Regions from separate parts of the Homo sapiens genome. Here regions 2 and 3 are each linked to region 1. The links come from fine-mapping of genetic effects on gene expression. A gene starts in region 1. Each other region holds a variant in brackets. All regions are shown on one strand. Distances are from middle to middle. Region 1 holds the start of TMEM121B (transmembrane protein 121B). Region 2 overlaps ADA2 (adenosine deaminase 2). Region 3 has its middle 13 kb from the start of HDHD5-AS1.

Region 1 (4,118 bases):
CCACTAACCACAGCCTAAAAGAGGCTGGCACTTCTAAGCAAGGGAGAAGGTCCAAGGCCCAGCACCCCTCTCCTCCTAATGGATGGGAATTAGAGTGGAGGTGGGCAAAGCAAGAAGCAGAGGTACCAGCCCCTTGGAGGTCAGGATTGGGGTAGGATAGGAGAAGAGAGGAGAGGGTAAGTGCACCTACCTCCCTCACCGTTAACTGCTGGTCTCCCTCCAAGCCGTCCTCACCCCAGGGTGCAGAAGAACACCCTGGCCCTTAGCCCTGAAAAGGGTTACCTCTTCCAAATAGACCCTGATCAAATCTAGGTGACAGAAGGTAGAAGACAAGGGGGTTGGGGACTCTCAACCCAAAAACAAGGACCCGTGCCCTTCACCCTCAATTCTGAGAGGCCACAGCCAGGGTGTTGACATAGCCATGAGCACCCCCCTCGTTCTCCGAGATGCAGTGGCCCAGCTGGGAGCCTCCCTGAGGTGGTGGCGGAGGTGGTGGAGGGGCGGAGGGCGGAGCACCGTAGCCCCCTCTGGCCCGACTCGGGGAGGCCCGATTGCCCCGGTCCCAGCAGCCCTCCAGGGCCTCCAGGCCCCGGCAGCCGAGGAAGAAGAGGTTCTTGAGCATGAAGATGGAGAGGGGCTGCTGGTAGCTGACCACCAGGAGGCAGCGCAGCGCCAGCAAGGGCACGTCCACCAGGCAGCCGCCCAGCAGGCGCAGAAGGCGGCTGCAGCTGCCAGGCCCGGAGGCCTGGCCCCAGGATGCAGCCGCTGCGGCCGCGGCGTTGAGCTCGTAGAGCCAGAGCACCGGCGAGGCGAGGGTGAGGAAGTAGACGGCGATAAGCAGGTAGCGCAGGTGCGCGGGCAGCGGCACGCGGCCCTCCAGCATCAGCTCCACCAGCGTGAAGCTGTCGAGCAGGTCCAAGCACGTGCCCAGGAAGCATCCGGCCGCGCGGTGCCGCTGGGGCTGCAGCAGCAGGGGTCCTGCCGATCCCGGGGGCGCGCCCGCCTCGCTGATGGCCCGCACCAAGCTGTAGAGCAGGGGCACCGACAGCGCCATGGTGAGACGGAAGCCCGTGGTGCCGAAGGGCGCGCGTAGCTCGATGAGGTCTAGGATGGACGTGCCCAGGATCAGCACCACCTTGGGAGTGAAGGCGATGGAGTAGATAAGCCAGGCCAGGTAGGCGAAGGCGAACTCGCCCGCTGCCGCGGCCGCCCCCAGGCCGCCCCCCGCGCCGCCGGCGCCCCCGCGGGCTCCGCGTGCCTTGGCCCCAGCGGTAGCGGCCGAGGGGGCGGGCAGATGCAGGGGCGGCGCGGCGTGGTGGTGGTGCAGGTGGTGGTTGTGCGCGCCGCTGGCTGCGCCGCCCCGACGGCCCCGGCTGTTCTTGGCGAAGAAGATGGCCCAGCCCACCACCACCACCAGGTCAGTGGCGATCCAGGAGCACCAGTACAGGTCGGTGACGGCGATGAGGTACAGGTCCAGCAGGCCGCCCTGCGCCAGCAGCAGCACCACGGACAGCGCCTGGTAGCCCCAGCGGCACCTGGGACTGGGGGCGCAGCCGCGGCGCCGACCTCTGCGGCCGGGGCGGTCTGGGCAGCCGCAGCAGCAGCAACACGGGCAGCAGGAGGCGCCGCTGCCGGTCCCGGTGCCGCCCGCGCCCCCCGCCGAGCGGCTCCCGGGGCCCCCGACGGCCCCGGCCGCGGCGCCCCCGCCGAAGTCCGCGGCTGTCATGCTGCAGGAGGAGGTGGGCGTGGAGGTGGAGGAGGAGGTGGCCGCTGAGGAGGAGAAGGCGACAGGCGCGGGGCCGGCGGGGGCGCCCACCTGAGCCGGCGGCCCCAGGAGCGCGGCGTTGGGCACCAGCGGCTTGCTGACGCTGAGGCTCTCGTCGTCGTCCTCGCGCTCGGCGCCCGTGCTGCTGCTCGGGGAGCCGCCGCCCCCGCCGCGTCTGCCGCCGCCTCCCCCGCGGCTGGTGCTGGTGCTGGTGCTGCTGTCGCCGGAGCCTCTCCGGCCGCGGAAGGAGCCCCCGCGGAGGAAGAGGGGCTGCAGCCGGGCGGCTGCCGGGGGCGGCGGGAAGGAACCGGACGCGGAGGAGACCGAGCGAGGGTGGCCGAGCGCCGGGCGCATTGTCCTCCGAGGGGCTCTGGGGCCGCCCAGCTGTTCCCTCCCCGCCAACCCCGGGCGGGCGAGGCGGGCTAGGCGGCCGAGGGGAGCCGGGGCCCGCCGCCTCCCCAGCAGTGGGGACTCGCACCTGGGCCGGGCGGCGGCGAGATCCGGACTGGAGCCACTGGACTGGGCGAGCCGGGCCGGGCGGCAGGGAGAGGGGGCAGGCGGTGAACCGAGCGGACCGCGGTGAAGACAGGCGAGGCGGGGGCGGGGCGGGGCGGGGCGGGGAGCGAGTCCCGCCGGGAGGGAGGGAGGCTGGCGGCGGGGAAACCAGGACTGGATTCGAGGGGGAGAGGAAGCAGCGAGACCAGAGGAGGAGAAAGCGCGGCGCGCTGGATCAACGGGAAGAGAAGGGGCGGGGGTGCAGTGCGTCACAGTCGGGTCGGGAGCCCTGTGGCCTGGAGGAAGCGGGAGGAGGCGCGGGCAGCCGCCAGGGCGAGGCGACCCGGTGCGGGGGGACTCCCATGGAGCGCGGACTCCTAAGGAAGTCGCTGGGAATCCCACCGGCTGTACCGCAGGGCGTTAGTACCTAGATGGCTTCGGTGCCCCCAAGCGATGGGCTCAAGCTACAGGGCGGGCTTTGCACCTGGCCTTCTCAGCTCTGAGGCAGGCAGTGGGCAGCTTCGCCTCCACCCTCCGTCCAGCGCCCTTCCCATGGGGCCATCCGCCTCTCCCTAAGGCACTAAAAACCAGTGGAGGAGTCAGGCCATGTTGGCAAAAAGGGCTCGGGCAGCAGCCCCAGACCTATAGTCCTAAATATCCATGTACCCAGCCCTGGGGTCGCGAGCCATCTCAGGGACGACCCGATTCCAGCGGATGGAGAAGTTCCCTGAAAACACCTGCCTGGGAGGAGAGACGAGGGAACGAGATTGGGCAAGTGGCATCCGCCCAGCGGGCTTCTCAAAGGTTTTTAAAGCAGAATGGGACGTAATAGGAAGATGTGTCTAGCAGAGAGTAAAATAAAGGGGCATTTAGAGGTGTGGGCACCTGGATGAAAACAAAGGCTCCAAAGGGATGATGGTGAGGGTTACAGCCCACCACAGTAGACAGAGACACCAAGGAAGGAATGCAGTCAGTGGCCCTGCGTAGACAGTCTCAGGAGAGAGCACACCAGCTCACCCCAGGACTCATCCAAGGCTGGGGATGGATGTCGATGCAGCAACTCTGGAAGGCAGAAGGTAGAGTGCTGCCTTTAGGGGTTTAAGGGAGAAGGAAATGACTAGAGCAGTTGGGGCTCAAAAACAATCTGAGGTTCACCAATAATGGAAACATCCCATTCCCAGCCCCATGAAAACAAGGCAGAAAGCTTGCCTGCCCTATTGGCCTCTGCACCCTTGTGGGGCCTGTGGGCTCCCTGATTTCATGACCTTTGAAGCTGCTGCTGCGGGCTCATCTCCCCTAGGTAACAGCTTGCAGCGTGATAACACCATGCAGTGTGAGGGAGCTGTATGCAGTGGAGCCGCAGGGGTTAGTCAGGCCTCGCCCCTAAATCTGCCTCTTAAATAAGAGTCCGTTTCAGCCAAACCTGCCTTTTCCAGTTCCGTGGAGGTCAGTCTGCACAGCCAATCCCTGGTAAATATACAATTTAGAACCTGCACCATCTCCACCTCCCCCACACACACCACTTTTGGAAAGCTGGCATGGTGGTGAGGGCAGGAGCTCTGGGGCCGCCATCCCACCTGTGCCACTTAACACCTTTGTGGTCTTAGCCTGAATATTTCACCTCAGAATGTTGATCTGTAAACAGGACCCCACCCCAGCCGGGCGCGGTGGCTCACGCCTGTAATCCCAGCACTTTGGGAGGCCGAGGCGGGCGGATCACCTGAGGTCGGGAGTTTGAGACCAGCCTGACCAACATGGAGAAACCCCATCTCCACTAAAAGTACAAAACTAGCCGGGCATGGTGATAATCCCAGCAATTTGGGAGGCAGAGGCGGGCAGATCACCTGAGGTCAGGAGT
Region 2 (4,118 bases), 68 kb after region 1:
CTGCACTCCAGCCTGGGTGACAGAGTGAGACTCCATCTCAAAAAACAAAAAAATTGACCAGGTGCAGTGGCTCACACCTGTAATCCCAGCACTTTGGGAGGCCTAGACGGGTGGATCACAAGGTCAGGCGATCGAGACCATCCTGGCTAACACAGTGAAACCTCGTCTCTACTAAAAATACAAAAAATTAGCCGGGCGTGGTGGCGGGCACCTGTAGTCCCAGCTACTTGGGAGGCTGAGGCAGGAGAATGGCATGAACCCAGGAAGCCGAGCTTGCAAGTGAGCCGAGATCATACCACTGCACTCCAGCCTGGGCCACAGAGCGAGACTCCATCTCAAAAAAAAAAAAAAAAAATTTGTTTTCCTTTTTGTGTAGAATGGAATCTTACTATGTTGCCCAGACTGGTCTCAAACTCCTGGGCTCAAGTGATCCTCCTGCCTCTGCCTCCCTAAGTGCTAGAATTACAGATGTGAGCCACTGTACCTGGCTAAAACACTTTTTTTTTTGAGACAGGGTCTAGCTCTGTCACCCAGGCTGGAGTTCAGTGAGCCTGGGCTCAGGCAATCCTCCCACCTCAGCCTCTAAGTAGGTGGGACCACAGGTGTGTACCATCATGCCTGGCTAATTTTTGTATTTTTTTGTAGAGACAAAGTTTTGCCATGTTGCCCTGGCTGGCCTCAAACTCCTGGGTTTAAAGAGATCCACCCACATCAGCCTCCAAAGTGCTAGGATTACAGGCATGAGCCACTGTGCCTGTGCCCAGCCTAAAACGAATTTTTATAGCCAAAGTAGGATGATGTGAGTTTGCAGGATTATGCCCCTACCACGAAAAATTAAAAAAAAAAAAAAAAAGAAGAAGAAGAAGGATTCAAATTCAGACTCCACTGCGCACCAGCTCTTTAACCCTGGACCACTGTGTTTGGAGCCTTGGGCTCTTCATCTATCAAATGGAGATTAAAAACTGGGGAAACAATCAGAAATCAATTAGAAAAGGCCAGGCGCAGTGGCTCACCCTTGTAATTCCAGCACTTTGGGAGGCCGAGGAGGGCAGATCATGAGGTCAGGAGATCAAGACCATCCTGGCTAACACGGTGAAACCCCGTCTCTACTAAAAATACAAAAAATTAGCCAGGCGTGGTGGCAGGTGCCTGTAGTACCAGCTACTTGGAAGGCTGAGGCAGGAGACTCTCTTGAACCTGGGAAGCCGAGGTTGCAGTGAGCTGGGCGACAGAGGGAGACTCCGTAAAAAAAAGAAAAAAAAAGAAGAAGAAGAAAAGAAAACAGGAAGGAAAGAAGAAAGAGAAACTAGAAATAATACATGTAAAGTGGCTGATTCTATTATCCTTGTTATTCCTTCTCCATGGGGCTGTTGTCAGGATTAAGTGAGATAGAGCACAGGAAAGGGCTCTGGAAACGCCTGTAGGCTCTAACCCTGAGGCATGGGCCTGTGGCCAGGAGCTCTCCCATTGACCACCTCCGCTGCCTCTGCTCGCATCCCGCAGGCTCACCTGTTTCTCCGGCGTGGAAGAAGTAAGGCAGCTTAACGCCATCCTTGGCGGGGATCATCAGAGCTTCCTTGTAGTCATGCAAGGAGTGGCCAGTGTCCTCATGCCCCACCTGCAGGACAGAGAGGGACAGGGAGGTGTCTGCAGGGCGCATGCCTCACTTGCTGATGGCGCGCCCTGGAGCCTGTGCACACCCTTCCTTGTACCCTGCCACCACTGCCGGGACCTTTGTCACACAGCCTTTTAAGAATGACCAGGAGCAGGCCAGGCG[T/C]GGTGGCTCACACCTGTAATCCCAGCACTTTGGGAGGCCGAGGCAGGCAGATCACGAAGTCAGGAGATCGAGACCATCCTGGCTAACACAGTGAAACCCCATCTCTACTAAAAATACAAAAAATTATCCAGGTGTGGTAGCGGGTGCCTGTAGTCCCAGCTACTTGGGAGGCTGAGGCAGGAGAATGGCATGAACCCAGGAGGCAGAACTTGCAGTGAGCTGAGATCACACCAATGCACTACAGCCTGGCCAAGAGCAAAAAATATATATATATATATATTTTGTAAAGACGGGGTCTCACCGATTTGCTCAGGCTGGTCTAGAACTCCTGGACTCAGGTGACCCTCCCACCTTGGCCCCCCAAGGTGCTGGGATTACAGGAGTGAGCCACTGCCCTGGACTAATCTAGATTCTTTTTTTTTTTTTTTTTTGAGATGGAGTCTTGCTCTGTCGCCCAGGCTGGAGTGCAATGGTGCAATCTCAGCTCACTGCAACCTCTGCCTCCTGAGTTCAAGTGATTCTGCCTCAGCCTCCCAAGTAGCTGGGATTACAGGTGCAGGCCACCAAGGCTGGCTAATTTTTGTGTTTTTAGTAGAGATGCGGTTTCTCCATGTTGGCCAGGCTGGTCTTGAACTTCAGACCTCAGGTGATCCACCTGTCTCGCCCTCCCAAAGTGCTGAGGGCATGAGCCACTGCACCCGGCCTAGATTCTTTATGAGATTGCCGAGCTGTCACCTAAGAAATGTCCTGGTTGTGCTTCGATTTGGTGGGGAGGTGTGGGACAATGACAACACCTATGAATGTGTAGCTTCAAAAACTGGTGTGGCCAGGCATGATGGCTGGAGAGGGAGGGACAAATATCACTACCTTGAGGATTTGCAAAGGCCTGGCTCCATCCTGGACTCTGTTTCCAGACATTACCCCCCAGTCCCCACCCCGCGTGCTACAGGGGCTGGTGAGGGTTTTAAGACCCACACCTAGGTGAGCAGTGTGGGATAGAAAAAAGGGCACAGGCAGGGCCATGGGGAATGAGCCCATAACTGTGGTCCAAACTCCCTGAATGCCATCCTTATTCTGGAACTTTCCTTGTTAGCTTGTTAGAACTGGCTGTCTGCTCTCCCTTCTCCAGTGACAGCCGTCCCCTGTAGGCCTCTGAAGAGGGTCAGCGCTGAGCTCTGAGCAGCCCTGCTGTGTCAGCAGCCTGAGCCTGCCCTGGGATGTCAGGGTACCAACAGGCACATTGCGCTCCCTTCCCAGGGAGTTGCCGCTCCACCCAGACAGGCATCCTCGCATGCCCCCTTAACAGGCAGCCCTTCTGTTCACAGCATGGGTTACCAGGTCAAACCCTGCCACCACCGTGGGGAACTTGATTCGGAGCCCCATGGCCATTCGGATGGATTCTGCGATGACAGCCACATCTTTGGATCTGTGAGACAGACAGAGAAGCCAGGAGACAGTGCCCAGCACCGACAGAGCACAAACCCCAGAGCACACCCTCCGTGCAGGGCTGGGCCAGCCCCAAGTGTGCAGGTCCCGTTTCCCAAACCTGAGGCACCCCTGCCCTCCTGACCCCACCCTGACCAGGCCATTGTGATCCCTGAGAGATATGTAGCCCAAATCCATTCTTATCAAAGACCCTTGCTGGCTCTGGGGGCACCTGTAGTCTCTGAAAAGTAGATGGGGTCAGAGGACCCACGGGAACAGTTTTATTTGTCTGCGTTTAGAGGAGGCCAGGTGGCCTTGTTCCCAGCTCTCCCTGCATCTCTGTCGGGGGTGTAGACATGGATGCAGCTCAGGGGCAGCTCTCTGTCCACTGCACACCTGCAAAGGGCCACAGGTCACCCAAGTCCCTGATGGGTCGGCTGGACCCAGTAACCATATGGCCTCTTGCTGATTAAGTCAGCAAGATCCTGGGTACTGCAGAACCCTACAGGGGCAAGGCAGGCAGCATGACAACAAAAGCCCCAAAACACAGGGTCTGGCGCAAGCCCACGACAGGCTCAAGGTCTTTGCCCTGCCACTGGCTCTCCTGCTCCAATCCTCGGCTCTGTGGGGATAAAGCCTTCCTGGCCTGCCCCACCCATGGCCTCTCCCCAGAGCCTAGGCAAACCTGGGGGCACTGATGCACTCAGCTCAGCCCTCACACCCTCCTGCCACTGGCCCTGGGAAGGGGCACCTGGCACCAGGGAGCCTCTGAGCAGAACGTGGGCCCATCCTGCAAGCTCCCTCCTAGGGGGACCGGCACAAAGCCAGAGCTTAGCTCCTCCAGGCCCCAGGCCCCATGGAAGGGAAGGGGACTCAGGAAGACTGGGCATGGGAGGAGGCTCCTGGGGAGTCAGTG
Region 3 (4,118 bases), 51 kb after region 1:
CTTCATCTCAAAAAAATAAAAAATAAAAATAAAAAAATTAGGGAGGGCGTGGTGGCTCACGCCTGTAATCCCAGCACTTTGGGAGGCCGAGGTGGGCAGATCATGAGGTCAGGAGTTCAAGACCAGCCTAGTCAACATGGTGAAACCCCGTCCCTACTAAAAATACAAAAATTAGCCAGGTGTGGTGGCGCACACCTGTAATCCCAGCTACTCGGGGGGCTGAGGCAGGATAATTGCTTGAACCCGGGAGGCAGGGGTTGCAGTGAGCCGAGATCGCACCATTGCACTCCATCTGTGGGCGACAGAGCAAGACTCCATCTCGAAAAAAATAATAATACAAAATTAGCCGGGCATGGTGGTGTGCGCCTGTGGTCCAGATGAGGCAGGAGAATAGCCTGAACCCAGGAGGTGGAGGCTGCAGTGAGTTGAGATTGTGCCACTGCACTCCAGTCTGGGGAACAGAGTGAGACCCTGTCTCAAAAAAAAAAAAAAAGAGTTCAGAACAGTGTGGATACTGTGCTGCCTTTTATATGAGAGCAGGAAAAAATATATATATTTGCTTTTGTTTATTTTGCATAAAGAAACACAAGAAACTAAGCCTGGTGGGAGAATGGGTGGGATGGGAAAGAGGACAGTGGAAAACAGAGGTGGATAGAAGCCTTTCGAATGTGTTCCTTTTCATACTTTTTGAATTTTTGAAATGTGATTGTATATAGATTCATTTTAATTTTAAATGTAATTAAAATTTAAAATTCATTACGGCACTACTCTCTCATCCTGTACTATGGGCTCTACCCTTTTTTGTTTGTTTGTTTTTGTTTTGTTTTGAAGAGACAGAGTCTCGCTGTTTTCCCCAGGCTGGTCTAGAACTCCTGGGCTCTAGCGCCCCGCCTGGGCCTCCCAGAATGCGGGACTACAGGCGCCGCCACCACCCGGCGTCTACTCTAAATGCATAGAGGCCAGGATGACCCAAGGTCACCAGCGGCCGATGCTGCCTGGCAGGGGCTTGAGGCCGGGAGGGGACCCTGCGGACAGGCGAGACCATGTGTGATCTGTGGGAAGCAACTAAACCGGCGTATTCGCGGCAGGGGAGCTCTGTGCCGTCCCGCGGCCCCACCCCGCTCTGCCATGGGAAGCCGTAGCTTGGCGCTGCCCACAGTGACGCGAGGGACTCCGAGGGCACCCGGGCCGGGGTGGACACGGGAGTGGGCCCGGGCGCGGCCGGCAGGGGGCAGCAGCGCCGCGCCGCCCGCGCAGTTCCACAGGTGCGCCGAGCCTGGGGCCATCGCCTCCCTCCGGCCGCCGTCCCCAGCGAATCGCCGCCTGCGTTCTGCCGTTTCCCCGCCACCGCAGCCACCCGGGGCCCGGGGGGCCGCAGCCATCCGCAAGCCGCGGGGCGGCGGGACCGGGCGGGCCGCTAGGGACGCCGGACGAAGGGAGCCCGCGGGCGGGGTCTGGGCGCCTACATCCTTGCTCCCAGGGAGGAAGGGACAGGAAACTGAAGCTGTTTCCGGGGCTGACCCCGGCCAGAGAGAGCAGGGCTCGGGAGAGTCGGCGCGTCCCGGAGGCGGCGCCCCCTGGAGGCCGGTGTGCTTTGGCTCTGCAGCGGGGGAGATTAGGGGTGGAGGCCGACCGATCCCACTCAGCCAGGACTGGCAGGCGCCGGGAGCTCACTGGGAGGCAAGTGCCGACCCCCGAAACCCACTCCAGACAAGCGAAGAAAACAGCTCTGTGTCCCAGGACGAGCACATACCTA[C/T]TGTCACCCACTGTGCGACCTGGAAGAGTTACTGACCCTCTCTGGGCCTTAATCAGTCATCAGAAACACAAACGCGTAGATAAGATGGTCTTTAGGCCTCTCCCAGCTCTGCTATTCTGTGAATCTAAGAAACTCTAGTCCCTCCACCAGTCCCCACCCCGGGCTGGCTTCGCTTCAGGGAGGCCTGGCTGAGCTGGGGCCCTCATCCAAGGTCTTTGCACGGTTCCTCAGCAAAGGTGTTTTGGAAGGCTGGGTCCCACCCCTTCCCGGCGGAGGAAGAGGCTATTGGCTAAAAAGCCTGGACAAATTCAAAACCAGCAGCTCGGCCCCGGTTTTTTCGGAGCACAGCCAAACCCAAATCACACCTCTGCACCTACCTAGCTCCAGAGATCTAGACAGCATTTACAGCCCCCAAATGTTATTTTTACACCCTTTCCAGGCAGGGAAGGACAGAGGAGGGTAAGCTATTTTTAGGATGACTGCTATTTAAAGTAACATACTGGCCTGGCAAGGTGGCTCTGGCCTGTAATCCCAGTGCCTTGGGAGATACAGGCAGGAGAATCACGTGAGGCCATGAGTTCAATACTATCCTGGGCAACAAAAGGAGACCCCCATCTCTATTAAACAGCCGGGCGTGGTGGTGCGCGTCTGTCGTCCCAACTACTGGAGAGGCAGGCTGAGGCGGGAGGGTCCCTTGAGCCCAGGAGTTCAAGATTATAGTGAGCTATGATCACAGCACTGCCCTCCAGGCTGGGCAGTGAGACCCTGTCTCAAAACAATAAATTAAGTAACCTAGACTATGTATGTGAAAATAATATTTCCAACCCTAGCATGCTGACTTCATCTGAGCTTACAGATGCATTTTCATACAGTCCTCCCCAAGGGATCAGTTCCTGTGAGAGCCAAGGATGGCACCACTCATTGAAATCCTGACCATGGGAAGGCGTCATTTGGGATTCCGGAATGGGTGGCTGAAGCAGTTTACAGAATCGCGTTCTGGTGAGCTTTAAGAATGGAACAGGCGCCGGGTGCGGTGGCTCACGGCTGTAATCCCAGCACTTTGGGAGGCCGAGGCAGCCAGATCACTTGAGGTCAGGAGGTCGAGATCAGCCTGGCCAACATGGTGAAGCCCCGACTTTACTAAAAATACAAAAATTAGCCAGGTGTGATGGCGCGTGCCTGTAATCCCAGCTACTAGGGAGGCTGAGGCAGGAGAATCACTTGAACTGGGATGGTGGAGGTTGCAGTGAGCCGAGATCATGCTACTACACTCCAGCCTGGGCGACAGAGTGAGACTCAGTCTCAAAAAAAAAGAAAATAAAAAGAAACAGGGACATCTTCCTGAGGAAGTCTCGGGCTGCTCTTCCTGAAGGTGAGGCTGGTTGCATAGTCTTTCAAGGTCCCTCACAAGCTGAGGCTCCTGTAAGTTTTCTCTTTTCAGCTAGTCTTTTCAAACGAACACACCTCCACCTCGCTTTCCTCCTTCCAAATGAAGAGCTGATCTAGAGCAGGCGCAGATCCAGATTTTGGGGCAGTCCTGAGGTTTATACATATTTGAAGGGTCTTCTTAAGGAAAAAAGAATAAAATCTGACTAACACACATTTCCTCTGAAATGGCAGCTTCGGGAGCACTGCTAAGGTAGCCGAGCCCTCCATTCCAGTGGCCACTTCCAGTCTAACAATTCCACCGTTTTCTCTTCTTTTTTCAACTCTTTCCATTCCAGTGGCCACTTCCAGTCTAACAATTCCATCGTTTTCTCTTCTTTTTTCAACTCTTTCCATTCCAGTGGCCACTTCCAGTCTAACAATTCCATCGTTTTCTCTTCTTTTTTCAACTCTTTCCCTCTTCCTGCCCATTTTTTTTATTTGTTTTGTTTTGGATGCTTGTTTGTTTGTTTTTGAGACAGAGTCTCGCCCAGGCTGGAGTGCAGTGGCATGATCTTGGCTCACTGCAACCTCCGCCTCCTGTGTTTAAGCGATTCTCCTGCCTCAGCCTCTTGAGTAGCTGGGATTACAGGTGCCCACCACCATGTCTGGCTAATTTTTTTTATTTTTAGTAGGGACGGGGTTTCACCATGTTGGCCAGGCTGGTTTCGAACTCTTGACCTCAAGTGATCCACCCGCCTCAGCCTCTCAAAGTGCTAGGATTGCAGGGATGAGCTACCATGCCTGGCCATAATATTCCCATTTTAATATGCATAAATTGTATTTCTGTGTCTACACACACACACACACACACACACACACACTCCAGTAACAATGAGCACATCTAGTGCCTAGATCAGGGCTACTAAATATTATTCTCTACTGAAAGGAACAGAGCTCCCTGGAGAAATGGCTGAGCTCAGGCATGACACAGGGA

Evidence for each region.
Region 2: its variant is fine-mapped to the expression of TMEM121B in whole blood (INTERVAL, PIP above 0.99).
Region 3: its variant is fine-mapped to the expression of TMEM121B in whole blood (INTERVAL, PIP 0.93).

Annotation. Positions count from the first base shown.
Region 1 is chr22:17,119,009-17,123,126 of GRCh38, forward strand. It overlaps TMEM121B (transmembrane protein 121B), which reads right to left and starts at 2,352. Exons shown (of 1, transcript NM_031890.4): 1 at 1-2,352. The coding sequence starts at 2,119. The coding sequence ends at 383. It overlaps LINC01664 (long intergenic non-protein coding RNA 1664), which reads left to right and starts at 2,587. Exons shown (of 4, transcript NR_103793.1): 1 at 2,587-3,031. RefSeq lists a silencer at 2,064-2,193 and an enhancer at 2,779-3,310.
Region 2 is chr22:17,186,830-17,190,947 of GRCh38, forward strand. ADA2 (adenosine deaminase 2) reads right to left here. Exons shown (of 10, transcript NM_001282225.2): 6 at 3,113-3,203; 7 at 1,510-1,618. Among named protein-coding and RNA genes, the nearest start is that of HDHD5-AS1, 30 kb to the left of the region's middle. RefSeq lists enhancers at 1,116-1,617, 1,618-2,117, 3,006-3,506. The variant T/C (reference allele first, on the strand shown) is at 1,778.
Region 3 is chr22:17,170,392-17,174,509 of GRCh38, forward strand. No RefSeq gene overlaps it. Among named protein-coding and RNA genes, the nearest start is that of HDHD5-AS1, 13 kb to the left of the region's middle. RefSeq lists an enhancer at 774-1,275 and a silencer at 1,126-1,555. The variant C/T (reference allele first, on the strand shown) is at 1,757.